4 linked regions of the Homo sapiens genome follow. The protein of the gene in region 2 purifies or fractionates together with the protein of the main gene of each other region. This does not show direct contact. Each region holds a gene or a part of one and is shown on either strand. Other genes may lie near its edges. The genes, in order: PON2, NPC1, TMEM192 and BRI3BP.

What was found.
Region 1: the proteins of NPC1 (region 2) and PON2 purify together in Homo sapiens (affinity purification with mass spectrometry; 3 studies listed by BioGRID and IntAct, with this or other methods). This does not show direct contact.
Region 3: the proteins of NPC1 (region 2) and TMEM192 purify together in Homo sapiens (affinity purification with mass spectrometry; 2 studies listed by BioGRID). This does not show direct contact.
Region 4: the proteins of NPC1 (region 2) and BRI3BP purify together in Homo sapiens (affinity purification with mass spectrometry; 2 studies listed by BioGRID and IntAct, with this or other methods). This does not show direct contact.

What each region holds. Positions count from the first base shown.
Region 1 is NC_000007.14:95,432,022-95,440,071, forward strand, and holds the start of PON2 (serum paraoxonase/arylesterase 2), read right to left. Parts: upstream 3,008-8,050; 5' UTR 2,931-3,007; coding exon 2,857-2,930; intron 1-2,856. UniProt on the Homo sapiens protein: Capable of hydrolyzing lactones and a number of aromatic carboxylic acid esters. Has antioxidant activity. Is not associated with high density lipoprotein.
Region 2 is NC_000018.10:23,583,351-23,590,473, reverse strand, and holds the start of NPC1 (NPC intracellular cholesterol transporter 1 precursor), read left to right. Parts: upstream 1-3,967; 5' UTR 3,968-4,130; coding exon 4,131-4,187; intron 4,188-7,123. UniProt on the Homo sapiens protein: Intracellular cholesterol transporter which acts in concert with NPC2 and plays an important role in the egress of cholesterol from the endosomal/lysosomal compartment.
Region 3 is NC_000004.12:165,102,730-165,109,977, forward strand, and holds part of TMEM192 (transmembrane protein 192), read right to left. Parts: intron 368-7,248; coding exon 221-367; intron 1-220.
Region 4 is NC_000012.12:124,989,211-124,996,849, reverse strand, and holds the start of BRI3BP (BRI3-binding protein precursor), read right to left. Parts: upstream 3,206-7,639; 5' UTR 3,060-3,205; coding exon 2,847-3,059; intron 1-2,846. UniProt on the Homo sapiens protein: Involved in tumorigenesis and may function by stabilizing p53/TP53.

The sequences.
Region 1 (8,050 bases), on a different chromosome or scaffold from region 2:
CCATTTGGGGCTCCACATATCCAATAAAGTTACCATTTTATAAAGTCACTGCCCATTAAAGTGCATCACAGTCACGTAAAGAAAAGGTGCATCAAATTGTAAAGTAGGCCGAGGGTGGTGGCTCATGTGTATAATCCTACCACTTTGGGAGGCTGAGGCAGGAGCATCACTTGAGGCTGGGAGTTTGAGATTAGCCTGGGCAACAAAGTGAGACCCTGTCTCTGCAAGAAATAAAAATACTAGCTGGGCATGGTAGCATGCATCTGTAGTCCCAGCTACTCAGGAGGCTGAGGAGGGAGGACTGCTTGTGCCTAGGTGTTTGAGATTGCAGTGAGCTTTGATGTACCACTGTACTCTGGCTTGGGCGGCAGAGCAAGACCTTGTGTCAAAATAAAAAACAAAGAAAAACAAAAAACAAACAAACAAAAACCTGTAAATAAACTATCAGGCATTCTGTCAATAAGTTTTATTTACTTTTTCTTTTTTTTTTAGATTTGCAGCTATAACTTTAAAACCTTAAGATTAGTGAGAAGGGGGAATATTTGACTGTTGAGAAAACTTCCAACTTGCAGAAAAACTGGTGGCTTACACATTAGTGACAACATAATAAGCTTGTGAATTTTGGTGGTCTTGCCTTTGAAATGGAGAGCAGGACAGATCATATACAAAGTCATCCAACTCATGAATGTTCTGTAGAGCACAATGGGCATTACCTAACATGAAAATTAAGGTCAACATGTCCATTTCCTACCCATAAGCGTTCTTTCCTCAAATCTCACTCCCATCTCAGCCACCACACGCTTCCTCTTTGCACTGCTTTATCAGTAGATGAAACTACAACCATGGGACAGTGGAGCTGTGGCACAAACTCTGGTAGCACCTTTGACTTCTCCCTCATCCCTGGGGTTCCAGAGTTTGGGTCCCTGTTATCCTCTCTGACCTACTGCAATACCTTAACCAGTTACCCCATGTCTGCTCTCTATTCTAGTAGTTCTCGACCTTGACTGCTCATTAGAATTATCAGGAATGTTTTTAAAAATAAAAAATGCCACTGCTACTGTCAGCCACTGTTCTTACATTATGCACTTCCTTATTTATCTATTTACCTGGGAACCCTGAAGCCAGCTTGCCAAACAATACATTATTCCATATCACATTTTAATTATAACGAAAAATCTCTGGTAGGTAGACACCATAGTTTATAAATTACCAACTCAAATTTTGTTTTTTATTTATTTATTTATTTATTTATTCATTTTGTAGAGGTGGGATCTTGCTATGTTGCCCAGGCCTGTCACTAACTCCTGGGCTCAAGCAATCTTCTGGCTTAGGCCTCCAACAGTGCTGGGATTACAGGTGTGAGCTGTAGATTCTGATCCAGAACAGCTGAATCAGAATCTTTGGTGGTGCCACTCAGACACCAGCCCTCCAGGAGATTCTAATGTACAGAGAACCATTGCTCTCCTCCAATCCCCCCTTCCAGGCTTATCTCTATAAAACACAACTAGTTATATTAAGTTCTTGTTGAAAAGCAAAACCCACCAATATTTCCCTTTTGAAGCACTATTGGGCCTATGAAAGTGGGGCCCCATTTTTCAACTTATATTTAATGGCCTCAAAACCTATCCTTCCCACCACCCTACTATTCTCATCTCCTGACTTTATGCTCCCTTCAAATTGGCCCATTTGCTAGTCTTCCAACTTCCCACCTTAGCCCCTTTGCTCCTGCTGCACTATACATTTGGCATGGGCCCCTTCATGCTCATATGTGTTGCACCCACCCTTCAAGGTCAGGTCGAATGTCTCTTCCTCCCTCTAGAACTCCACCCTCAGGGGATGGAATCTTTCCTCTTTAAGCCTATGCGGTTCATTTGTGTCTGTCCTTAGAACATCCTAATTTATACATTTACTGTATTTTAATTCTCTCTTCCCCTGTATCAAACTCCATAAGGGTCGTACTCTACTATAGAAGCCTAAGAGAGAACATTACACATAGCAGGTGCTCAGTCTTTCTGGAACTCTTTTGCATGAGGCCTATAAAATTTTGGTTGAGGCAGGGCAGAACAGCTCACACCTGTAATCCCAGCACTGTGGGGAGGCCTAGGCTGGAGGATTGCTTGAGTGCAAGAGTTAGGGAACAGCCTGGGCAATACAGCAAGACCCCATCTCTACAAAAAATAAAATAAACAAAAAACAAACGTTGAGTTGGTAATTTATAAACGATGATGTCTACCTACCAGAGATTTTCATTAAAACTAAAATGCGAGATGGAATAGTGTCTGCGCTGTCTGGCATTCTGGCTTCAGGCTTCCCTGGTGAATAAATAGGAAGTAAGAACAGTAGCTGAATATTTCAAGTGTCTTTGATCTACAGCTGAAGAGTTTCTCAAACTATGCAGAAATGGGTGGAGAACAACTTTATTAAAGACGGGTCTGGTTTGGGCAACAAGGAGAAACAGCACCAATGACCTGAAATAAATCTTCATAGTTAAGGTTTCAATGCATGAGTAGTCATTTTGTTTTCAATTTAAACCACTAGTTTGGCCCTTGGGTAATTGCAAAGCATTCTCTTGTCAGCCTAAGCAGAAGAGAACTTTGTTAGCAGCAAGGGCTTATAAACTTTCAAGAAAGTGTCGCGATTCACTCCAAACTTTGCTAGTTTTTTCACTAGAAGCGGAGAGTCGGGGTGATGGGGGTTCAACTAGCTGGGGGAGGGACAGCATTCAAAAATTCTCCACCCCCGGCCGCAGGGCCAGGTCCCGCAGGAATCCCTCCCCCAGCCTGCGCCCTCCCCGCACCACGCGGCCACCCCGAGCCTGGGGACCGCCGAGGAGGGGCGCGCGGGAGTCCCACCTACCTGAGTGCCAGAAGCCTCTCGCCCAGGAGCGCCAGCGCGATCCCCAGCAAGCCCACAGCCACCAGCCGCCCCATGGCGCGGGAGCCGGGCGCGCTGCCTCGCTCCGGCCTGGCCAGCAGCTCCGTGGGCGGTGCCATCTTCCCGGCTCGATGGTGCCGGCCGCGCTCCGCCCCGTCCTCCGCCTAGGCCGAGTCCCTGCGTCGGGGCCGCGGAGGCTCCGCCCTGGGCCTGGCCCTGGTCTTTGTCCTCACAAACCTATTTCCCCAGATACCTTCGGGACGGCCCGGACACGCCTTACATTAGGCTCATGATGTGAAACTTTGAATTCCTTCACTTCCTTTTTCAAACAACCCACCCGAAACCCTCTAGCAGCCCGCATACCTTTCTCGTTTCCCTAGTCTTCAAACACATTTCTCACTCGCTATTCCAGTGAGAAACTTACATAGAAAGCAGCTTTTGGGGATGGGGGTCGGTGGCCAAGGGAGGGAAAGTAACGGGATGCGTCGTGTAAATATTTCACGTTGGAATCACTACTTTTTATAACAGGACGTAGTTGCGAATAAATAAACATCCTGTGCCTCGTAATACTTTTTTTTTTTTTTTTTAACAGGGTCTCGCTGTGTTGCCTAGGCTGGAGTACATTGGCACAATCATAGCTCACTGCAGTCTGGACCTCCCGGACTCAAGGGACCCTCCAGCCTCAGCCTCCTGAGTAGCTGGGACCGCAGGCACGTACCGTTACACCTAGCTAAGTGTGTGTAAGTTGTGTGTGTGTCTGTGTGTGTGTGTGTGGAGACCGAGTCTTGCTGTGTTGCCCAGGTTGGTCTCAAACTCCTGGACTCAAGCCATCCTCCTGCCTCAGCCTCCCAAAGTGCTAGAATTACAGGAATGAGCCACCATGCCCAGCCTCTATTAATACTTCCAGACTACAGACTTAAGGACTTAGACACGTCTTTTTCATCCAAACTCAAAGGGAAGAAGTGTAGTTTTTTTCTTTTCCGTTTTTACTCTAACAACCGTAACATGAAGGAATAATTTAAAATACAATTTTAAAAGTAAAATGAAATTTACCCATCAAGATTGATACCATTACAATAAATGAGTACATCTGAAATAAGCTTCTAATGGTTTTCGGTATTTAATTGCCACCCTACAATATGTAGGCAGAAATGGTCACACTTGACAATTTTCAACAAATATCAGTTTTATAAAGAACCAGTAAATAAAAGTGGATGCCAATTTCCCACCTGCCTCTCACCAAAAAAAAAAAAAAAAAAAAAAAGCACAAACACCTCTCTCCCTGTGTGTGTGTGTATCTCTGCTTCAGTCCTAAGGATATTGGATTATACTGGATGGTAGAAAGAGAAGTAAAAAGTTGTCCTTTGAAAGCCCATGAGGCATTACCTTTTTTGTGTCGTGGACCCTTCTGGCAGTGGTGAGCCTGTGGATAACTTCTTAGAATAATGTTTATAAATGCTTACAATAAAATGCATAAATTTTCTCTGTGCGGTTCATGAAAAAAAGAAAGAAGAAAAAAAAATTTTAAATAAATGAATAAAATGTATAGATTGCAAAGAAAATCAATTACATTGTAAGGAAAAAAAATAGCTGAGAGCAGTCTGAGCTTTGTGAGGTATGCAAAATTTATCAGGCCCAGAGCGACATGAGTATGGGACTTCAGTCACGCCCCAATACCCATGCCTGGGGACAGTTGTTTAAAGACATTTTGTTCCCGAGTAGCTGTCCCACCCATTATCTTCATATTCCTGGAATTTATGATACAAAGAACAAAGTATAACCAATCCACAGCTTATGTTATTTTAACGCAAGGAATTTAGGAACTGCCTCTTCCTTCCCCTTAAAAATCTATGTGTAACTGCTGCTAATCAGAGTGTATATTTAGGGAAACTTGAATCTATACTCCTGGGTTGCAGTACTCAAACTTGGCCCAAATAAACTCTCTACTTACATTAATTTTGCCTTAGCTTTAAAATTAAAGGTCAACAATTGAAATGTAATTGTTAAAATATCTAAAACATAATTTTTTGCTATAGTAATGTGGTAATGTAATGTGTGCAACATTATTTAACATATTAAATAACAAGATCTAGCAACATTCTTTTAAATAAAGAGGAGTGCAAATGTTCTTTCATGATACTGAAAACAACTATAATGAAATAATGAAAATAACTGTTATTTCCATTAGTAACAGTCACAAGTACTGCAAATGCTTCTGAGGTTTGTCTGCTAGTTTTGTAATTGAAGAAAATGCTAAATTCCATTTGAAATCAAGATTTTTTTTTTCTTATCCAAGGTCATTAATTCCTCTGAACTATCAATGGACCACTGGGTTAAGAACTCTGACATAGGCTAAGGCTATGACTGTTTAGAGAAGGGTGGAATCTCCTTTCTAGGACTATTTTTGGTGTCAATTATTGAGGAAGAGAAGAGCCTCAGATACAAAATCAGAATTTAGGCCTGGCAAGGTAGCTCTTGCCTATAATCTCAGCACTTTGAAAGGCCCAGGTGGGAGGATCACTTGAAGCGGGGAGTTCAAGACCATTGTGGGCAACATAGGGAGAACCCATCTCTACAAAAAAAAAATTAAAATTAACAAAAAAAAAAAATTAAAGAATCAGAATTTAGAAGAAAGACCTAAAGCAGAGGGCCTTGGACTATTGTCTGGGCTTCTCTCTTAATCTCTTAGGCCCCAAGGGAAGTACATACAACTATGCCTCATGGATTCTGGGTCAGGAGCCAGGCTACCGTGTCTTTCCACAAGTTCCGCAAAATGAGGAAACCACATAGATGGCAAATAAGAATATCCAAGTATATGCTATTCTCTGTCTATTTCCCTTTTGCTATTCCCAATTTTTTAAAAAGAAAAAAGTCATGTTCTTAATAGTCATGTTCTTCAACCTGGTTCCAGGTGACATTAAAGGGTTGGAGGTCTACATCTTTTAGGCTAGTCTCAGGATAGCAAAAACAACAACAACAACCAAAACCAGCTTTTGTGCTGACTTTCCTTTCTTCCCTGGCCCATGGTAGGCGTCACTAATTGATTTTGGCAAAGTGTCTCATCACACCCAGACTTGTCCTCACAATTTTTTAAAACAACAACGAAAGGGAAATAAGAATCCCTGAGCTAGGGAACAGATTTCAGTTCAGGATGAAACCTGTTTGCCATCTTGGTGCTGGGTGGTCAGGAGGAACAACACCTTGGGATTTAGCATGGAAGCATTTGTGATAATGAGCCAGGACTTTCAAGTCCACCAAAACCTACCTAAGCTCACCCTCAGAGAATCAAGAGAAATGGAAACCTTATTTTAACTTTATTAACATGACCAGTGAGTTCCCCCAATAATCTGTGTGAGGAATCTTCTACCCCCATATTCTTTCTCTTTCTGAATGTTGCGGTTGAAGCAACTTTTGCAGAAGTAGTATCCATCTTTACCCCCAGCCCCACCACCATGCTAGGGCTGGAATTGTCATTCCTCACATGGGGATGGAGATGAGACGTATTTTCTAATTTGGAAATCAGAAACCATTGTAAGAATGTTATAGTGGTTGTTACATTGTATAGTATAGTTTAGCTGTCTTTTGAGATAACTAGGATGTATAGGCCACACCAAGAACATAACCCCTGGTTTACGTTTGTTTCCTGGGGAAAGTGGTTTCTGACTACCAAATAACCAAGTTACTCAATACAAAACAAACTTGTTCTGGAACTTGCTTGTGTGCTGGCAACTCCTTATACTTGGTATGAAACAGTATTTCTCAAATAATGACTTCTGACTTATTTAGTGGTTATTAAGTGGTTTTTTAAGCAAAATTTCAGAAATAATAATACCTTTTATCAGTGCTTCTCAAACTATGTGCAGTGAAGGACAGGTTTTTCTTGGCCTTTGTAAAATGCAATGAAAATGACTTACTGGAAGAGGAAGTAAAAAAACCAGACATACAAAATACAAGCCCAAATCTTTTATTATTTGGTTCAACAGACATAAAATTACTTTGTCAAATTTCTGTAACAGTTTCTAAATGCTTACTTTCAATTTTTTATACTTAACTAGCCATGGACCAGAAACAAAGAGTTCACAGACTGAAATGGTCCCTGGAGCACACTGCCTTTCATAATTGTACTTTTAACTCTTTAAAGTTCTTTGCAGTGTATTCTTAATTGTAACGCTCACAGTAATTTGTGAAATAGGTGACTCGTGATTATTGTAATTTTATATAATATGTGACAGGGAGTTCGGCCCTCCATATTCCTTTTATCCCTTCTTCTCCTTACTTCTGTTTTAAAAAGGGAACAAAAATGCATTGAAGGGATGCTATCAAAGATGGTTATTATCAGCAAAAGAAAGATTTGCCTTGTAGATGCCTCACTCCGTGGCTTCTCAAAGAGTAAAGGAAACCTCCCCACAGCCAGGCCGTTTTCTGAGAATTCCAACATATTAAAAAGTGAAGAAATGGCATAACAGAAACATAAAGTTTTTTTTTAATATTTATGTTCAACAAATTAACATCTTCAAATAATAGGTTGAATGATATTAACTTGTTTGTAGAGGTCAAATTCATAAACAGAGATAAAATACAATGTAATGTGCTAGTTACAAAATAATTATGCAATTCATAAAAAATATTTATTCCTGGTTTGCTATAGGAAGAGTGGTCCAGTCATGGAACTCAAGTTTAAAATGAATGAGTTTTTTCAGTTGTGTCACTGTATCTTTGTGATGTATGAATAAATGAATTGTGAGATAATGTTGAAAGTCAACATTTAGGGCTCTTTGTAAACTTCACGTCTAGGCCAGTTGGCTTGCCTGTCCCCATGAGACCCAAGCCTATTTATTTGGAGAGCTATAGGCTTTGCTGCCTCTCTTCCAGGAGCCATTGAACCCTGGGGAAGAGGACAGAGAGGAAGAAAACACTGGGAGAAAAGAGGGGAGCAGGAAGAGAAAGATACAAAAACTCCCCAACCTCCATGTGAGGCTGACTTTGGATGGGCTGAACTCTATGGAAAAAGTAAAGACATGTTACATCCTCTTCTAGGAAATGCATGCACGTTTTCCATTGTCCAAAGCAGCATTGTTTGTAGTTCTCCATGAATGAACCGTACGTTCTACTCCTTTTAGAAGCCTTAATGAAACAGGCTTAATGAAGGGGTCTGCTGAAGTAACAACTACAGGTA
Region 2 (7,123 bases):
GAGACGGAGTCTCGCTCTGTAGCCAGGCTGCAGTGCGGTGGGGCGACCTCGGCTCACTGCAACCTCCAACTCCCTGGTTCAAGTGATTATCTCACCTCAGCCTCCCGACTAGCTGGGATTACAGGCATGCACCACCACCCCCGGCTAATTTTTGTATTTTTAGTAGAGACGGGGTTTCACTATGTTGGCTAGGATGGTCTCGATCTCCTGACCTCATGATCCACCCACCTCAGCCTCCCAAAGTGCTGAGATTACAGGTGTGAGCCATCACGCCCAGCCTAATTTCTTGTTGCCCAGACTGCAGTGCAATGGCGCAATCTCAGCTCCCTGCAACCTCCGCCTCCCAGGTTCAAGAGATTCTCCTGCCTCAGCCTCCTGAGTAGCTGGAATTACAGGCATCCACCACCATGCCTGGCTAATTTTTTGTATTTTTAGTAGAGATGGAGTTTCACCATGTTGGCCAGGCTGGTCTTGAACTCCTGACCTCAGGTGATCCACTTGCCTCGGCTCCCAGAGTGCTGGAATTGCAGGCATGAACCACCGCGCCTGGCCAATTTTTGTATTTTTAATTGAGACGGAGTTTCAGCATGTTGGCCAGGCTGGTCTCGAACTCCTGACCTCAGGTGATCCACCTGCCCCGGCTTCCCAAACTGCTGAAATAATAGGCGTGAGCCACCGTGCCCAGCCCCAATATTTTTTAAAATAAGAAACAAAATAAATAAAATCACAGATTGCATTTAGGTACTTCCATACATTGCTGGCTGCAATTTCTTTGGAGGGCAATTTGACAACAATCAAAACTTAAATACCCATTTCCTTTGATCCAACAATATAAAAGTATTTCCAACAGTTCTATTTGCGCATGATTGCAAAGATTTACATCCAAGAATGGGCCAGGAGTGGTGGCTCACGCCTGTAATCCCAGCACTTTAGGAGGCTGAGGCAGGCAGATTGCTTGAGCCCAGCAGTTCAAGACCAATCTGGGCAACATGGTGAAACCCCGTCTCTACAAAAAATACAAAAATTAGCCAGGAGTGGTGGTGCACAGGTGGGAGGATCGCTTGAGCCCAGGAGGTAGAGGCTGCAGCGAGCCATGATCATGCCACTGCACGCCAGACTTGGCAACAGAGTGAGACTCTGTCCCAGAAAAAAACATTTTTAAAAGATACAAGGATGTTCATTGCATCATTTCCAGTAACAAGTGACAAGCTAAATGCCCAAGAAGAGACTGATTAAATAAGTTACATAGTGGATCAAAAATTATTAACGTAAGTATTTCTAGCCTTCCCCTACCATCTGCCAGCTACAGATAATTTAGTCTTGGGTCAACTTTCTCCTCTCCCTCTACAAGGGAAATGTTCAAAAGTGTTTAGACTTTGGTGATGCAGCATGATTGGGAAAGCAGAGGGCACAGAAAGATGCCAGGCTTTGTGGTCTCCAGGCAAGCTCAGGAATGTGACAAAGCATACCGAAAAGAAAAGCGGGCTGGGAGCAGTGGCTCACGCCTGTAATCCCAGCGCTTCAGGAGTCTGAGGCTGGTGGATTGCTGGAGGCCAAGAGTTAAAGACCAGCCAGGCCAACATGGTGAAACCCCATCTCTAATGAAATCCAAAAAAAAATTAGCTGGGCGTGGTAGCGCACACCTGTAATCCCAGCTACTCGGGAAGCTGAGGCATGAGAATCTTTGGAGCCGGGGATGTGGAGGTTGCAGTGAGCTGAGATCATGTCACTGCACTCCAGCCTGGGAGACAGAGCAAGACTCTGTCTCAAAAAAGAAAAAAGGAAAAGGAAAGATAAATTTATAATGTATTGCCAGGACCACACAAACCCTTCATATGTACCAGGAATGCAAGTAGAGGAATTGAGTTATTTTGAAATACTTGTTGGCTGGTGATTTATATTTCATTGATTTAGACACTGCTCTGAGTATGGCTTCAGAAGTGTTACATACGCATAATAAAATCCTTTACAGCTATTAAAAGGAGTGAGGTAGGAAAGCATACTGCTAAAAGCAAAGAAGCCAGATGAGAACTGTGTACTGTACATCCCCACTTGTTTAAAACGTTTGTATATTATATTCACATATGTATGCTTTCCACTACATAGAAGTTTTCTGGAAGGTATTTCTGCACATTTATAAAGATGCACATCTAATAATTTCATTTCCCCCCATTTTCTACTTATTGCTCTGAGGTCAACACTGAATAGTCCTTATGAAGATGGTATTGAATATTCTTTCAACAAAAAAGTCTCCGGATCTCAACTACTGGAGCTCAGAAAACGATACCCCAAAGTAGGAGGCTTTGGCATGCTAAGTACTTTGAACTAAAGGAGATTAGGTCTCAGTAGCAGCCTCAGAAACAAAGTCTACCCATGACTTTCTCCTGCCCTCCTGTCTCCAGCGGTCTTGCACCCCTGAAGTAAGTCACAGGAACCAGAATTCTTCTTCCCCAAGGAGGGTTATGGAAACTTAGAACCTTCAAAGTAATTTATAAACTTGGAAATCTTACTGTAACATTTTCTTCTACCTCTCTCTGTCTTTGAGACAGGGTCTTGCTCTATCACCCAGGCTGGAGTGCAGCAGCATGATCATAGACAACTGTAGCCTCCTGGGCTCAAGCAATCCTCCTGCCTCAGCCTCCTTAGTAGCTGAGACTACAGGTGTGTGCCACTATGCCCAGCTAACTTAAAAAAAATTTTTTTTTTGTATAGAGGGAGTCTTGCTACATTGCCCTGGCTGAGAATTTACATTTCTAACAAGTTCCAAGGAGATGCTCCTGCTGCTGGTCTGGGGATGGCCGTTTGAGGATCCCTGCATGAAGGCATACACAGGACTTGATCCTCAGTGGGGGCACCAGGAGCTGGAGCCTGGGGAGTGGGAAGCGAGAGCACAGAGCTGACTGAGGACCACGAGGTCGTCGTGGAGGACCTAGGCTGAAGGTCCTGAAGAAATCCCCATAGTTTCACTGCCAGGCCAGCCAGGTGGACATCTCAGGGCTGAGGAGGTGAGAAGGCAAGACAGAAAGTGAAACAGCACTTTATAGGATAGGGATGGGAAGGTCATCTGCATCATGGGACTCCTTGGGGAGGGGTTCGGTCATTGCTCCAGATGAAGGTTTAGTCTTTTCATCGTAAATTTGCTTTCACTGTTGGGAAAGAGATCTTCACCTCCATTTTCTTAACTTCAAAATGGAAATGACAGATGCTTTTGAGTGGTCTGAATACTTGAAATTTGAGGGAAAACGTTACCAGAAACACATACAACTAGAGTTAAAGATAAATACATATATCAAACGCATGGCTCAAAAATGACAACGCGTCTTCTTTATCTGCCTTCACGTAGAACTTAAAACAGACCCTGGTCCCCACCTCGGGGTTTCCTCGCGCCCACGGGCTGCGCTGCGCAGCTGGGCCAGCAGGTGGCGAGGCTCCCGCACTTTTTTTCCCGGGCCTGGCCGCACCGCCACCGCCCACCCCGCGCTCCGCCCCGCCCCGCCCCGCCGCACTCGCGGATCGTCACACGGTCAGGCCACCGCGCGTCACCGCCCCGGGCTCTGCTAGAAAGTGCCGGGGTCCAGATTCCTTTCAGGTGACTGGGTTGGGAGGAGAAGTCGCTCAGCGTAATTGTCGGAGCCGAAATAAACAGAGACTCCGCGGCCGGGCGGGACCTTACCCGGAAGTCCCCCAGAACAGCACTACCCTTCGCTGAAACCTCGCCCGCCCCCTCCAACCCAGAGACGAAAAGGGAAAGCATCACGGCCAGAAACCGTTGGCACAACTCCACAGATACTCTCCCGGGCCGAGCCAGACTCCATAAGTCCCGCGCCTGGCCCCCGGGGATTGCAGGGGCTGAGGAGAAGGGCAACACGGGGACCTTGAAGCGGGGTCGCGGCGGCGCCCCAGCCCGGGCCAGGGAGTCCCGGCAGCGGCACCTCCCAGAAAGGGCGGAGCCGACGACGCCTTCTTCCTTCCTGACCGGCGCGCGCAGCCTGCTGCCGCGGTCAGCGCCTGCTCCTGCTCCTCCGCTCCTCCTGCGCGGGGTGCTGAAACAGCCCGGGGAAGTAGAGCCGCCTCCGGGGAGCCCAACCAGCCGAACGCCGCCGGCGTCAGCAGCCTTGCGCGGCCACAGCATGACCGCTCGCGGCCTGGCCCTTGGCCTCCTCCTGCTGCTACTGTGTCCAGCGCAGGTGAGCGGTCGCCGGCCACCGGGACGCCCTGTGGGGACGTGGCGGGGCCGAGAGCCGGGGAAGGCGACGGGCCCAGCGACGGCTCAGGCCCGGGTCCTGGGGAAGTTGGTCTGGCGATGGAGAGCTCGGAGGTTCCTCACTTGTCCTGTTTCTGTCTCCGGCCACGCTCTCTTTCCTGTGGTCTGGAAGAGGGTGGCAGTGGGGGCTTGGGTGACCTGTTCTGAGCTTGTTCCATCTGTGGTCACCTAATTTCTCTGTGTAGGATGTGGCACCAGAAGAAGGGAGGAAAGTGGGTAGAGTGGGATAGGGACACTACTTGCTTTTTAAAAAATTCTGCTACATGCGCACGAACTCCAAAATTTAGGAGCTCTAACCACTTTATTTCCTCTTCTCATCACCTGAGGATGGAGGTGGAAGCAGAGGTAAAGAGACACAAACTTCCTCAAGCACCCGGTGAAACTGCCTTGAGTACTTGACATAAGTCAGCTTGGTCTTCTAAAGAGGGCAGGTTACTTTTCATCAACTCCTTTTTACACCTCAGGACACTGAGACTCACAGGGCGGTATTGAATTTCCCCTTGTCACTATTAGCCAGCGACAGGATGGGGCCTGGAACTCGGTGTCCTGCTGACTCCTTCTGGGGGCTTTTGCTTGGTTTAATAGCTTTGGGAAAGAGCACCTCAGTATTTGTGTGTCTGTAGTTTCCTCTTTTAAAACTGGAGTGGGGCAGTGTCACGCTGTGACTCGTTAAACCAAATCAGGATGAGAGTGCCTCCGGGGAATTGTGTCCTTGTGCACATTAACGCCCCTCACATAGGTGTGGCGTCAATAGGAAGTGGTGAATCAGGGGAGAGGGGGTTCCGTGGACTAGAAAAAACTCTCCTTCGACTTCTATTTAGTTCTCAGAAGGGGATAGGTGATGTTGATCCAATAATGGACTAAGAGCCAGGAGAAGGGCTCCGCGGGAGGATCTCTTGAGCTCAGCAGTTCAAGACCAGCCGGGGCAACATGGTGAAACACCGTCTTAAAAACATTTTGTTTTTCTTTTCATTGTTGAGGTTGAGGCTGCTGTGAGCTGTGATCACGCCGGTGTACTCCAGCCTGGGCAACAGAGCAAGACCCTGTGTCAAAACAAAAAAGAGAGAGAAATAAATAATAGCAATTATGTGCCGTAGAGAAAATGTGGCTATTCTGTTTCCCTAGAGTTTTTTAAAATTTATTTTTAAAATTTATTTATTTTAGAGACAGGTTCTTGCTCTGTTGCCCAGGCGTGGGGGCAGTGTCGCCATCATAGCTCACTGCAGCCTGGAACTCCTGGCCTCAAGCAGTCCTTCCACCTTGGCCTCCCAAAGCACTGGGATTATTGTGAGCACCACTCCTGGCCCCTCCTAGAGTTTTAGATCAGGACCTTAAATAGGCTTCCCTTTTTTTTGGAGACAGAGTCTCTGTTGCCCAGTCTGGAGTGTAGTGGCGCAATCTCGGCTCACTGCAACCTCTGCCTCCTGGATTCAAGCAATTCTGGTGCCTCAGCCTCCCAGGTAGCTAGGATTACAGGTGCCCACCACCACGCCCAGCTAATTTTTGTATTTTCCGTGGAGATGGGGTTTCACCGTGTTGGTCAGGCTGGTCTCGAAATCCTGACCTCTAGCGATCCGCCCTCCTCTTTTGGGGATTACAGGTGTGAGCCACCTCGCCCAGCCAGGCTTCACATTATTAAGTAGCCATCTCTTAAGTATTTTTTAAATCTCAAGTACCCAAGGCTGATGGCCAATGAGTGCTTCTTTTATGACATTTGGGATAGGTCAGAGGTTTGTTGTAAGTCTCTTGCAAAAATGCCTGGAGGCCTTTTCAAGGTCTGTAAACCTTAACTGGAAATAATCCTATTATTATTTTAAAAATTCCTCATGTCTGAAAGCTTTCAGTGCACCTGAACAGATTGGGGTGGAGCCATGAAGCCAAACAGATTGGGAGAGAGAGTGTGTCTGCTTTTAGAATTCGTACCGATGATAGCAGCTCATTAGCTTCAGTCTGAGCGCTAGTAGAGTTCTATCATGGAATTATGGACTAGTTGTCCTGTGTAAGATCTGAAATACATGTTGGGGGGATTTTTGCTTTTTCTTAATGTTCAATATGTACAGATGATGTAATAACATTACTAGACTGCCTTGTTTTTAAAACCCTGTAGTCATCTAAAAACTATATGCAGTTTTGAGACATAGCCTTTATTTTTCCCGGCTGTAATTTTGGTAAGCTTTATCTTGAGGGACTTGGAACATAGAGAAGCCTGGGTAGAAATTAAGCATTAAAATGGCTTTTCCTCAGAAGACTGGGAATGGTTAATCTTTTGACCTGTGAGTGATTAAGAACAACCATCTGAAATTGGAATGACTGTGGGAAATCTTTCCCCATCTTTCCCACTCCTTGACTGATGCTGTGATCAGAAATTTTACTAACATAAGTAATCAAGGGGAAAATGAGATTTTTTTAAATTTGAGCCAGTGGGCAGAGGGAAAAGGACTCGCTGAATAGGCCTTTGTATTCCTCCAGTGTTTGTTATATTACCCAGAACAAAGAATCACTCTGGTCATGAAGACAGTGTGCTCTCTCTTTCCTGGGTAACCCTCCACTCCTAAAAGGGATGCAGTATTCTAAGCATGGCAGATTACCTACAGCGGAAGCCTGGATCAGTCATCTCTGATCTCGGGTGCCCCTTTCTGCCCTTTGACCTCCAGCTCTGTGAAGGGCATCAGCTCTCCAGTCAAATTGAACTGCTTGCTAGCAAAATCCTGCCCATCTTCCAGGGCCCCATTTCACATGCTACATTATCTACGACATTCTTGTCCTGTTCCCCTAACTAGAATGCCTTCCCTCTGAAGTTCTGAATCTTTATTTAAACTGCTGCAACAGCATTTGCTGCCTCATTAAAAGACCTTGGTG
Region 3 (7,248 bases), on a different chromosome or scaffold from region 2:
TGTGCAAATATATCCACAATGAATTATTTGAAGATATAAGTAAAAGTGTACGTACTTTTTTTTTTTTTTTTTTGCCCATGACACAGCACTCAGGATGTCCTAAGAACATGTGCCCTACATTTTAAATGTTGATAGATACAGCACAACTGCCCTCTGAAACACTTATATAATTTTTACAAACATCACCTCTGGATAGGTCCCCTTCTTGCAGCCAACTTACATGAATAAACCACAGAAGATTCACTATGATGACTGTAGGAAGAGGATGGAATCGGGGTCTAAAGTGAGCTTGTAATGAGTGGTGTGGGAGAAGCTGGGCATCCAGAAGTGGGTCGTCTTCAATACTCTGGGTGATATCCAAGGAACCCTGGGGTGCAGAAAAACAAGCAACCTATAATCACCACTTTCTAGATTATGTTTCTAAGACAAATCTACTAAACTACAGAGCTTTTTAACCACATACAAATTAAAGGCAAGAGAACACATTGCCTACCTGAATCCAATTTTTTAAAAATTAATTATTAATTTAATTTAATTAATTAAAAAATTAATTAATTTTTTAAAAACTGTAGCAACACGGTCTCACTATGTTGCCCAGGCTGGTCTTGTTTGTTTGTGTTTTGTTTTTTGTTTTTGAGACAGTCTCGCTCTGTTGCCCAGGCTGGAGTGCAGCGGCGCAATCTTGGCTCACTGCAACCTCTGCCTCCCAGGTTCGAGCAATTCTCCTGCCTCAGCCTCCTGAGTAGCTGGGACTACAGGTGTGCACCACCACACCCAGCTAATTTTTTTTTTTTTTTTTTTTGAGATAGAGTTTCACTCTTGTTGCCCAGGCTGGAGTGCACTGGCACAACCTTGGCTCGCCGAAACCTCCACCTCCCGGGTTCCAGCAATTCTCCTGCCTCAGCCTCCTGGGGTAGCTGGGATTACAGGCATGCACCACCACACCCGGCTAATTTTTTATTTTTAATTTTTAGTAGAGATGGGGTTTCTCTATGTTGGTCAGGCTGGTCGCGAACTCCTGACCTCAGGTGATCCGCCTGCCTCGGCCTCCCAAAGTGCTGGGATTACAGGCATGAGCCACCGTGCCCGGCACACATCCAGCTAATTTTTGTATTTTCAGTAGAGGGAGGGTTTCACTGTGTTGGCCATGCTGGTCTCAAACTCCTGACCTCAGGTGATCTACCCACCTCGGCCTCCCAAAGTGGTGGGATTACAGGCATTAGCCACAGTGCCCGGCCCCAGGCTAGTCTTGAACTCTTGGCCGCAAGCTGCAATTCCAGCTACTCGGGAGGCTGAGGCAGGAGAATCACTTGGACCCAGGAGGTGGAGGTTGCAGTGAGCCGAGATTGCGCCACTGCACTCCAGCCTGGGCGACAGAGAGACTTCGTCTCAAAAATATGGATATATACTGCATTGTATATACTTTTAATTTGCTAAGAGTGTAGATCTTAAGTGTTCTCATCACATGTTAAAAAAAAGAAAAAAAGAATATGGTTCATGGGAAGCACATAACAAATCAGCAAATGAAAAGCATAGAAGACAATGCCAAAAAATTTAGGTCAGCTAACTGCACTACAATGAGACAGAAATGAAGGATTCATGAATAGGTTTTGGCTACACAGAATGAGAGCTCTTTATTTTGGAAGTAGGTAGTAGGACAAATGATGTAAGAGATGGCTGTTGATTGCTAAGATTACAAAGATAAGGACAGTAATCTAGGGTGTAACCTAGCTCTGGAGTGGGCTCCTCAATTTCCAGTAGCAGGTATTCAACACTGCTCTGCAACTGTTTTTGTTGTTTTGTTTGTTTGTTTGTTTTTGAGATGGAATCTCGCTCTGTCGCCGAGGCTGGAGTGCAGTGGCTCAATCTCGGCTCATTGCAACTTCTGCCCCCTGGGTTCAATCGATTCTCCTGTCTCAGCCTCCTGAGTAGCTAGGATTAAAGGCACGCGCCACTATGCCCGGCTAATTTTTGTATTTTTAGTAGAGATGGGGTTTCGCCATGTTAGCCAAACTGGTCTCAAACTCCCAACCCCAGGTGATCCGCCTGCCTCAGCCTCCCAAAGTGCTGGGATTACAGGCATGAGCCACCGCGCCTGGCCAAGTCTTTTATTCAATGCCTAGATTGCTTCCTGTTTAGTTTACCATAACTCATGGTACAATTCAGATTACTCCTGTTCTCTTCAAGACCCCTCTGCCTCTAGCTCATTCTCAGTCAGCAGATGTTGGAGCCTTGAGATCTGCTCTTCCCTTAGCTAATGTCTGTGCATTCTTTCATGCTCAGAAGGGGCAATTCCCACCACAGGGCCTTTCTGGATACCCCTAATCTGGATTGTGCCACCCTCCATGTTTTTCAAAGCATTCTGTGCTTGCCTCTTCTATCAAACTATCCTGTGATGGTCTCTTACTTATCTCTTCTCCACTAGACGTCATTGGACCCATTACCTTTACACCTCTTGTCTTTGTAATCCCAGCACTCAACACTATCTCATGGTTGTCACTCAGCAAACATTTGCTAGATGAATGAATGAGTGCCCCAAACCTGTTTCTGCAGTATTTTCTAATTCAATTATGGGCATCATCAAAGACCTGGGCTAATTAGAAGAGATTATCAGGACATACGGGGGATCAACTGTGACCAAAGGCAGTAAGAGCTGTGGTTAAGGTCAGGCTCCTAAGGGCAAACTGCCTGGATTCAAGCACAAGTTTTACCGCTTTCTAGCTGAGAGCAAGTTACTTCATCTCTCATGCCTCAGTTTCCACATCTAAAAAGGAGACTAATAATAGCACCTGCTTCGTAGCTCTGTCAGGAATACTAAATGAGTCACTACACATGCAAGTCCTCATGACACTGCCTGACGCACAGAGAGCACTCAATAAGTATTAGCCACTATTATTTCTTTATTAACTCTTTTCTCTTTTTAATATTTTTTAAATTTTAAAATAAAAATCAACAGGGTCTCGCTATGTTGGCCAGGTTGGTCTTGAACTCTTAGCCTCAAGCAATCCTCCCAAGTGCACTCCCAGTGTGCTAGGATTACAGGTGTGAGCCACCACACTTGGCCTTTTTATTAACTCTTACTTTTGACTTGCACCCCGCTATGGTCTAAATGTTGGTGTCCCCCAATAGTTCCCTGCTTTCCTTTGGGAAGTAATTAAGCCATGAGGGTTCCCCCCCTCATAAATGAGATCAGTGCCCTTATAAAAGAGGCTTGAATGAGCTCCCTTCCACCTTCCACTGCGTGAGGATGCAGCAAGAAGGCGCCATCTTTGAAGCAGAGAGCAACCCCTCCCCAGGGCTCTTGGCACCTTGATCTTGGGCTTCCTGAATCCGTGGCTGCCTTAATCTTGGACTTCCTGTCCTCTAGAACTGTGGTCAATACATTTCTATTTGTAAATTACCCTATTTGTATTTTACTATAGCAACCCAAACAAAGACACTACCCCTATAATCATTACCATTCTATCCACTCAGTGCTGGGGCATGATAAAAAGAGAAAAAATCATTACCATTCTAACTCCTAAACCTGTTATTTCCTCTCTATTCTCACTATCTTAGTCCAGGCCCTCCCATTTCTCATGGCCTTTTATTAGAAGCTTCCAGTCTTCTGGTCTTGGCAATCTCTTTCACTGCTCCAAGACAAACATTCGTGTTTCTCTCCTCAAAAACTTTGGGTAGCTCCCTATGATGGTCAATATTAAGTGTCAAATGGATGGCAAAGTATCGTCTGTGAGGAGCCAAACATTTGAGTCAGTGGACTGGGAGAGGAAGACCCACCCTCAATATGGGCAAGCACCATCCAATCAGCTGCCAATGCAGCTAGAACAAAGCACAGAATAGGCGTATAAGCAGCTTGCTGAGTTTTCTGGCTCTCTCTTTCCTGCGTCAGATGCTTGCCTCCTTAATTCCTGCCTTTGGACATCAGACTCCAGATTCTTCGGCCTTTGGACTCTGAAACCTGCACCAGCAGCTTGCCTGGGGCTCTCAGGCCTTCGGCTGCCGACTGAAGGCTGCGCTGTTGGCTTCCCTGGTTTTGAGGCTTTTGAACTTGGACTGAGCCACTACCACCTTCCCTTTCCCCAGCTTGCAGGTGGCCTATCATGGGACTTCACTGTGTAATCTTGTGAGCTAATTCTCCCTAATAAACCCCCTTTTTATATATACATATATCCTATTGGTTCTGTCCCTCTGGATAATCCTAATACGATCCCCAAATCCTCAGGACAAAGTCCAAATTCTTAGTCTATCGCTTTACAATCTGTCCCCAAGTAACTTCTCAGGATTTTTTTTCTCTCTTTTTTTTTTCTTTTTTTGAGACAGAGTCTTGCTCTGTCCCCCAGGCTGGAGTGCAATGGCATGATCTCAGCTCACTGCAACCTCTGCTTCCTGGGTTCAAACAATTCTCCTGCCTCAGCCTCCCAAGTAGCTGGAATTACAAGTGCCCGACACCTTGTCCAGCTAGTTTTTGTATTTTTAATAGAGACGGGGTTTCACCATGTTGGCCATGCTGGTCTCAAACTCCTGACCTCAAGTGGTCCACCCTCAGCCTCCCAAAGTGCTGGGATTACAGGTGTGAACCACTGTACCCAACCTTTTTTTTTAAAACAAAAACAAAAACAAAAAAAAAAACAGGGTCTCACTCTGTCACCCAGGCTGGAGAACAGTGGCACGATCTCGGCTCACTGCAGCCTCCGTGCCCCCCTCCCCAGGCTCAAGAAATCCTCCTACCTCAGTCTCACGAGTAGCTGGGACCAGAGGCACACTCCACTATGCTTGGCTAATTTTTGTATTTTTAGTAAAGGTGAGATTTCACCATGTTGCCCAGGCTGGTCTTGAACTCCAAAACTCAAGCAATCCACCCACCTTGGCCTCCCAAAGTGCTGGGATTACAGGCATAAGCCACCACGCCTGGCCAAGGATTTGCCTCTCACCATTTCCCTCCCTCCTGGTGCCGTCTGCTTATGATACCCGTCTTTCATGAAACACTTTCCATCTCTACACCAGCTCTACTTATTCTTCCCCACCTGTCAAATGCTTGTCCCAGCAAAACCGCCTTCTCTGCGGTGCCTTTTTAGCATTCCCAGCCCCAGCATCATTCCTACTGCACTCTTAATCTGACATTGTAGTTTTCATCTGTACAAGTTTGAGCTGGGTCTACTTTGTATCTTCCATGTCTCTATGTAACTTCTAAATATATAGAAGACATTTATAATAATGTTTAATGTTCACATGCTATTTCTAGCCTATGTCATGTCTGAATCAGTTTCAGTGGACTCAGTACAGCTCACATTTTCCTGCCTCTTAGCATGCCTTGTCATTTTTTATTGGATGCCAGATATTGCAAATTTTACCTCTGTGGGTGCTGGGTATTTTCTGTATTCCCTTTTTTTTTTTTTTTTTTTTTTTTTTTGGAGATGTAGTCTTGCTCTGTCACCCAGGTTGGAGTGCAGTGGCATGATCTCGGCTCACTGCAAGCTCTGCCTCCTGCGTTCACACCATTCTCCTGCCTCAGCCTCCCAAGTAGCTGGGATACAGGCACCCAGCACCACGCCCGGCTAATTTTTTGTACTTTTAGTAGAGACAGGGTTCCACCATGTTAACCAGGATGGTCTCGATCTCCTGACCTCGTGATCCGCTCGCCTCAGCCTCTCAAAGTGCCGGGATTACAGGCATGAGCCACCGCACCCGGCCATTTTCTGTAATCCTATATTCGTGAACTTTGTTCTGGAGTGCAGTCAAGTTACTTGGAAACAGTCTTGCTGTTAAGAAATTAGGTGGGCTTCATCTAAGGCTAATCTAAGGCCTCCACTACTGAGGCAAGACCTTTCTGAGTACTCTACCTACATGCTCTGTGAATTATGAGGGTTCCGTCTGGCTTGTGGGTGAAATAGGCAGTATTCTTGGCCCTGTATGGAGAAACTGTTCCTTCCAATCCTTTTAGGTGGTTCTTTATGAGGCCTCCAAGAGCTTCCTCATGCCCTGATTAGCACTCTACTGGATGCCTGGTAGGCGCAGGGCCAGGGGGCTCCCCGTGCATATCTTCAGAGTTCTCCCTCTTTGTAGCTCTCTCCTCTCTGGGTGCTCTGTCTTGTGAACTCCAGTTACCTCGATCTCCTAGACCCTCAACTCCATCTCCTCAACTCAGAAGTCTGCTGGGCTCTGCCTGGCTTCCCCCTTCCCTGTCACAGCCTGCACACTCTTTCAAGGCAGTAAGCCGGAGCAGTGATAGGGTTCACAGCATTTGTTTCCCATCTCTGAGATTGCTACCCTTCATTGTCTGATGTCCGGTATCTCACAAAGTGTTGTATCATACGTTATATCTAGCTTTTTGGTTGTTTCAGGCAGAATGGTATATCTATTCCCAGTTACTCCATGTTGGCTGGGAATGGAAGTCCCTACTGAACTCTCTTACATCTGTATCTGTATCATAACCTACCATACTAAGCACATGGCATTGAAATTGTCAGAATAAAATGTGCTTTACAAGGGCAGAGACTCTTTTATATTATGTCCTTTGTGCTTTTAACACTTGATACACAGCAGATGCTAAGGTGTTCAATATGCGTGTTGAGAGAAAGAAAGACTGCTCAACTTCTTGTATGCTTCAGACCTGGGAAATTTTTATTTATTTATTTATTTATTTACTTTTGAGACAGAATTTCGCTCTTGTTGCCCAGATTGGAGTGCAATGGTGTGATCTTGGCTCACTGCAACCTCTGCCTCCCAGGTTCAAGCAATTCTCCTGCCTCAGCCTCCTGACCACAGGCTGGGATTACAGGCATGTGCCACCATGCCCAGGTAATTTTTATATTTTTAGTAGATACCGGGTTTCGCCATGTTGGCCAGGCTGGTCTCAAACTTCTGACCTCAGGTGATCCACCCGCCTCAGCCTCCCAAAGTGCTGGGATTACAGGCGTGAGCCACCGCACCTGGCCAGACCTGGGACATTTAAACAAAGCTAGCATTGAAAACTTCACTATAAGACAATAATCTACTTTATCTCCTAATATGTCACTTTCATGCACCTTCTTCTCTCGCCTAAATGAGCTTTCTATAGAGCCCTACAAATATCCTCCCTTACCTTTTTCAGAATTCTATGCATCTTTCAAGGTCCTAACCAAGTTTATGTTCTCTATAAAACTGGCCTTGTTAAGTGTTTTCCTTCTGCTTTAAAATCCTATAAAACTTATTGCCCATAATATTCATTTGGAATATTTCTTATGCTGCCTTGTATTGTTTTCCTTTTCA
Region 4 (7,639 bases), on a different chromosome or scaffold from region 2:
GCGGCAGAGGTTGCCATGAGCCAAGACTGAACCACTGCATTCCAGCCTGGGCGACAAAGCAATACTCCATCTCGGAAAAAAAAAAAAAAAAAGACTATGGGGTGTTTTTTTAAATACCATTAAACTTCACAAAGCAGGTTTGGCTCTAATTCGTAAACCCAGGCATGCTGAAAACTACAGTTGCTGGCAGACCCAGTTTTCCTTTATTTAAAATTCACAAAACAGGCTGGGCACGGTGGCTTACGCCTGTAATCCCAGCACTTTTGGAAGGCTGAGGTCGGCAGATCACTTGAGGTCAGGAGTTTGAGACCAGCCTGGCCAACATGATGAAACCTCATCTCTACCAAAAACATAAAAAATTAGCCGGATGTGGTGGTGCTCACTTGTAATCCCGGCTACTCACTTGTAATCCCGGCTACTCAGGAGGCTGAGGCAGGAGAATTGCTTGCCCAGGAGGCAGACGTTGCCGTGAGCCAAGATCGTGCCAACGCACTCCAGCCTGGGTGACAGAGTAAGAGTCTGTCTCAAAAAATAAATTAATTAATTAAATTTAAAAAAAAACCCATAAAATTAACAAAACAATATCCCCAAGCCTGGCCAGTGTGGGCTACACTCAGCAGGAAATAAAATAAGTCAGGCCAGGTGCAATGGCTCACACCTGTAATCCCAGCACTTTGGAAGGCCGAGGCGGGAGGATCACTTGAGGTCAGGAGTTTGAGACCAGACTGGTCAACATGGTGAAACCTCTTTTCTACTAAAAATACAAAACTTAGCCAGGCATGCTGGTGGACACCTGTAATCCCAACTACTTGGGAGGGTGAGTGGGGAAGATCGCTTGAACCTGGGAGGTGGAGGTTGTAGTGAGACGAGATCACTCCACTGCACTCCAGCCTGAGCAACAGAGCCAGACCTCCGTCTCAAAAAAACAAAAAGGAAAGAAGTCAGGTCAGCCTCTGGATGCTGTACTGACTCGGGGAACAGGGAAGGGGTCATGAAGCAGGAAAACAGGCGAGAGATACTAATGTGGGCTCCATGTCCACTCTGCCTAGGTTCACATCCTGGCTCTGCCACTCATCTGACCTGAAACCAGCCACTTCACTGCTCTGTGTCTCAGTTTCCTCATCTGTCAAATGGGAACAGTAACAGTACCTACTGCACAGGGTCATTCTAAGGATTACATAAGATTATTCTATCTACAAAAGCACTTAGTAATCATTAGTATCTCTATTAAAGGCACAAACCCCGGTTTAGCCCAGGAAGAGCTCTGACCCCCAGATTCGGAGATGCTCTGCCAGAATACAGATTGTCTTATTTAAGTAAAAGTCTTAAATAACCACTCGTATTTCATGTTTGTTGGCCTTAGATTGTCACATGGAACCACCGTCAGTTGAGACATGGGGATCCTGTGGTCACCCTGCGTGAAAAAGACAGGCTTATTTTTGCTCTAAAACAAATGATTTCTGCCTTCAAATAGCTCCGAAACGGCATCAAGAGGAAGTAAGTGAGACTCCCTGCACTCACACCCCTGATCCTTTCCCGCGCCAGACTCCAGGGCAACCTTTTCACATTCAGGCGTTCAGCCCTGCTTCCTTGCCCCTCTTTGGCCACCTACAAAGCGTTCTCTCCCCTACATGTATGAAGACACAGACCCACCTGTGCAAGAGGTGCCCCTGCCCACAGGAGAGGGAGGTCAAAACTTACTGTTTTCCTAACAAATTAACCTTTCATGTTATCCAGTAAGAACATGCAGTCAATCTGATTTCGGCCTTCATATTCCCTTCTATTCCCCACTCCCTCTCAATGAGCAGAAAACTTTAACTTTTTAGCCATGATTCTGGGCCAGGAAGGTACCAACTAGTCATAATTACAACCTCGCAATGAAGGGGAATGATTACTATCCCCATTTAACAAATAAAGAAACAAGCTCAAAGAAGTGAAGTCACTTCCCCAAAGTCATCCAACTGGTAGAGCTCCAACTTGAACCCAAACTTCTCTGACTCCAAAACCCCAGGAAGGCTGGCGGCAAGCAAGAGCCCCCTCCTCCCCAGGGAACAGCAAAGGAACCGCAATACCACACACAACTGTCCCCAGTAACTTCCTCCTTCTCAAGAGCTAGTCGGCGGACTTCGGCCCGGAATGGCACCCCTATCGCACCTAGCTCCAGAGAGCAGGAATTGGGGAAAACCCCCTGCGATCCTCCTGGGACTCAACACCCTTCCCAGGAGGCTGCAGGATCCGGGACCTCCCCAAACTAAACAAAAGGCTCCACGCGAAAGGCCCCGCACACAGTAGGTGCTCGGTTTCCCAAAGCCACCGAGCAAATCGCATTGCTCCCTTCTTTTCCTGTAAAGTAAAAACAACTCCAAGTATCTTCAAAGCAGGAGGAGGAGTGGGGCAGAAGGTCCCAGGGGAAGTGGGTCGGGATGCGAGGCTAGGACAAACCCGGGGTAGCTGGGGAGGGCGCAGCCGCGTGGGGACCGAGAGCGCCAGTGTGCTGCCTGGCTCACAGTAGGAGCCATTCAAACGCGGTGAATGAATGAATGAGACGCGCGGCAGGCGTCAGCGCAGCCGGGAGAGACTCTGGCTGCGCCGACCGCGGAGGCAAGGTCCAAGGAGAAGCGCGGCGCAGAGGAGAGGGCGCCCCGAGGCCCGGCCGCCCAGACCCGCACTGGTCAGGCCCGGCGGGGGCCGCAGGCGGCAGGCCCCGAGGCGCAGGCCGGACCCCCTCTTCCCGCGCGCTGGCCGGGCGGGCAGCCCCGGAGGCCGCGCTCCTCCCAGGTCGGCCCCGGTAGCCAGGTGCGTGGCGACCGGGGCAAGGTGACCGCGGGCGCGGGCCCGGCGCCCACCTTCTGAGCGGCGCGCACGTTGTCCTCGCCGAACAGGCTGCTGACGCTCTGGGAGAAGGTGTTGACCGTGCGGCGGTAGCTGTTCTTCTCCGCGCCGCCGCGGCCCCGCGCCCCCTGCGCGCCCGGGGCCAGCAGCCCGAGCAGCAGCAGCAGCAGCAGCAGCAGCAGGAGCCCGGCCCGGGCCAGGGGCCCGCCTGAGGCGCGCGCGCCCATGCTCGGCCGGCGGGGCGCGGGGTCGCGATGCGGGGTGAGGGCCGTGCGCTGGGCCGCAGCGGGCTCCGGCTAGGGCAAGGTTGGCGCGCTCGGGGGCCGCGCGCCGCGCCTTTACCCACAGCCGCCGCCGCCGCTGCTGCGCCACCTGCCCCGCCCCGCGCGCAAAGGCGCACGGCCCAGCCCACGCCGCGCCCCGCCCCCGGCGCGGGACCAACGCGACCCGGCCCCGGGGCCCCGCGCCCGCCTCCCGGAAGCCTGCCCCGACCCGGTGCGGCTTCTCATCATTTAAAAAAAAATTCTCTTTTTTAACTTATCCGTGGAAAAGCAACCCGTGCCTGTAAAACTTGCAACAGCTTCAACCAGGAAAGTGACTGCAACTGATTGAAAAACATGAAATAGACATATATGTAATCTCCCTGAATGTATTATAATGGTACCCCAAAATTCGCCCTCGTGGGCATCAGCTCATTCATCCTGAAAATTTTAAATAACAAGAAAGCATCAGGCATCCTCCTGCCCTTCCTGAATGAACTGTATTTCAGAGCCCCAAAATAGTTGGGGAGGGACTTTCTTTTACAAAGTCCAGCTAATACATGAGGATGAATGAGAGAATCCGAAAATTATTTGGCACCCCTCAATAGAATGATGGATTCACGCGATGATCATCAGAAATGGGTACAACCAAGAGGGGAGGGTTTGGCGGGGAACTTGAAAATGGAGGGGCTAAGCCGCGAAGTCCCGGTCCCGCCAATCGATCTTAGTGCCAGGAAGTACCAGCGCCACCTGCGATGGATTCTTGCCAAGACAAGTTGAGCATGAACCTGATGGGGCCTCTAGATCAAACCTACAGTTTACAGGAAATATGGCAGATAAGGAAAACTTAGAAGCAGCAGAAGCAACCAACCAACTCCAGCATGTGGGGCATTCTACCAAACAAACGACCCAGTTTGTTCAATAAATAATTGGTATAAAAGGTGAGCGAAGAGGAGGATAATTGGTTTTAAAGACTTAAGAGCCATAATAACCCATGCAATGCAAGGACCCTGTTTGCATCCTAAATCAAACAAATCAAGTCTAACCAACATTTTTTTTAGACAACCAAGAAAATAAAACTCAATTTTTGCCAATCCAAAGAATACAAAATGCTCTTATTTTTGAATTTACATTTTCTGGATTCCTAGTAAGATTTTCATAGATTTATTGGCCATTTGAATTACTTCTCTGTGAATTACCTATTCATATCCTTTGCACATTTTTTCCTGTATTGTTTATCTTTTTAAAAACTTTTTTGTAGGTCGGGTGCGGTGGTTAACGCCTGTGATTCCAGCACTTTGGGAGGCTGAGGCGGGTGACCTGAGGTCGGGAGTTCGAGACCAGCTTGACCAACATGGAGAAATCCCTCCGTCTCTACTAAAAATACAAAATGAGGCCAGGCGCCGTGGCTCACGCCTGTAATCCCAGCACTTTGGGAGGCCGAGGCGGGCGGATCACAAGGTCAGCAATTTGGGAGGCCGAGGCGGGCGGATCACGAGGTCAGGAGATCGAGACCATCCTGGCTAACACAGTGAAACCCCGTCTCTACTAAAAATACAATAGCCGGGCGTGGCGGCGGGCGCCGTAGTCCCAGCTACTCAGAGCCTGAGGCAGAAGAATGGCGTGAACCCGGGAGGCGGAAGTTGCAGTGAGCCGAGATCGTGCCACTGCACTCCAGCCTGGGCGACAGAGCGAGACTCCGTCTCAAAAAAAAAAAAAAAAAAAAAAAAAAATCCAAAATGAGCCAGTTATGGTGGTGCCTGCTTGTGATCCCAGCTACTCGGGAGGCTGAGGCAGGACAACCGCCTAAACCTGGGAGGCGGAGGTTGCAGTGAGCCGAGACTAAGCCACTGCACTCCAGCCTGGGCAACAAGAGTGAAACTCCGTCCCAAAAACAAAACAAAACAAAACAAAAACCTTTTTTTACGCCAGGTGTAGTGGCACAAGCTTGTTTTGGGAGGCCAAGGCAGGAGGATTGCTTGAACACAGGAGTTCGAGGCCAGCCTGGCCAACATAGTGAAACCTATCTCTATAAAAAATGATAATAATAATAATAATAATAAACTTTTTAATTAAGGTATAACATACAGAAAAATACACAATCATATAAATTTTTATGAATTTTCACAAACTGAATACCCAAGGTAACCAGCACCCAAATCAAGAAACGAAACATTACCAGTTCCCCCACGAAGCCTCCCTTTGTCCCCTCCCATTCACTATGTTCCTCTTAAAATTTAGGGGATTCATTTGCCTGTGTTTGAAGTTTATGTAAATGAACCACACAGTACTCTGGGGGTTGGCTTCTTTTGTTCAACTTTTTTTTTTATTTATTTTTTATTTTTTGAGACGGAGTCTTGCTCTGTTGCCCAGGCTGGAGTGCAGTGGCATGATCTCGGCTCACTGCAACCTCCGCCTCCGGGGTTCAAGCGATTCTCCTGCCTCAGCCTTCCGTGTAGCTGGGACTATAGGCACGCGCCACCACACCCGGCTAATGTTTGTATTTTTAGTGGAGACAGGTTTCGCCATGTTGGCCAGGCTGGTCTCAAACTCCTGACCTCAGGTGATCCGCCTGCCTTGGCCTCCCAAAGTGCTGGAATTACAGGCGTGAGCCACCACGCCCAGCTTTTGTTCAACTTTATATTTGTGAGATCCATCCATGCTGTTATGTATCTGCCTTCTTCTTGCTGTCTAGAATGGTCTATACCTTCTGGAAGGTAATTCACTGATATATTATATTTTAGAAGGAAATATAGGCAAGTGTACTACTACCTACTTAACATTTTTTAAACGTTTCTTAAACTTTTAATTTATTTAAATAAACATATTTAAAGAAGAAACTTTAGATCACTATCATCCTGAGCAACAAAATCCATAAAAACACAGATTTGAGCCTGGGTGCAGTGGCTCAGGCCCGTAATCTCATCATTTTGAGAGGCCAAGGTGGGCCGATCACTTGATGTCAGGAGTTTGAGACCATCCTGGCCAACATGGTGAGACCCCATCTCTACTAAAAATACAAAAATTAGATGGGCATCTTGGTGGGTGCCTGTAATCCCAGCTACTTGGAAGGCTGAGACAGGAGAATCGCTTGAACCCGAGAGGTGGAGGTTGCAGTGAGCCGAGACTGCTCCACTACACTCCAGCCTGGGCGTCAGAGGGAGAGTTCTGTCTCAAAAAAACAAAAACAAGCAAACAAACAAAAAACCCCATAGATTTGATACGCTAATTATGATTTTTTTAAACGTCATTCATTAAGGCCTTCACAGTGGCTTATGCCTGTAATTCCGGCACTTTGGGAGGCCGAGACAAACGGATCCCTTGAGCCCAGAATTTTGAGACCAGTCTAAGCAACATAGGGAGACACCATCTCTACAAAAAAATAGAAAAATTAGCCCGTCGTGGTGGTGTGTGCCTGTAGTCATAACTACTCAGGAGGCTGAGGTGGGAGGACAGGTCAAGGCTGCAGCGAGTGGTGATTGCACCACTGCACTCTGGCCTGGCCCACAGGGCGAGATCTCATCTCTTAAAAAAAAAAAAAAAAAAGTCGGGCGCGGTGGCTCATGCCTGTAATCCCAGCACTTTGGGAGGCCCAGGCAGGCAGATCACGAGGTCAGGAGTTTGAGACCAGCCTGGCCAACATGGTGAAACTCCGTCTCTACTAAAATACAAAAACTAGCTGGGGGTGGTGGCGGGCACCTGTAGTCCCAGCTACTCGGAAGGCTGAGGCAGGAGAATCGTTTAAACCCGGGAGGCAGAGGTTGCAGTGAGCCGAGATTGCTCCACTACACTCCAGCCTGGGCAACAAAGCCAGACCTTGTCTCAATAATAATAATAATGCATTGTTTCCCAGTGTGTTACAATGTGATGCGGTAATGGGAATTTAAAGTTATGTAATAGACAACTTTATTTTTTTTTTTTTGAGACAGAGTCTAGCTCTGTTGCCCAGGCTGAAGTGCAGTGGTGCAGTCTCGGCTCACTGCAACGTCCACCTCCCGGGTTCAATCAATTCTCTGCCTCAGCCTCCCAAGTAGCTGGGATTACAGACGCCTGCCACCAGGCCTAGCTAAATTTTTTTTGTATTTTTGGTAGAGACGGGGGTTTCACCATCTTGGCCAGGCTGGTCTTGAAATCCTGACCTCGTGATCCGCCCGCCTCGGCCTCCAAAAGTGCTGGGATTACAGGCGTGAGCCACCGCGCCCGTAGAGGCCTCCTTTTAGATCTTCCATCTATCCCTGTGATGGAAATATTTGGTGCCTTTTTAAAAGTACACGACTAATACGTTTCTTGTAGGAATATCAGAAAATACAGATGCGCAAACCAGGGTTGGGGGGAAGAAGTTTGGAGTACTGGGGGCGGGGTATATTTTAAAAGGTGGCAAAACACTTCCACTCCCAAGAAGCCAAATTAGTATCAGTAGATATAATTCATATTTAAACCCAGACTACCCCAAGCGAGAACAGCCCAGGACTTAAACTCCGGCCTCCGCTGGGACCTCAGGCCCCGCCTACTTCTCTAAATAGTCCCGCCCCCTGCCCGGCCCGGCT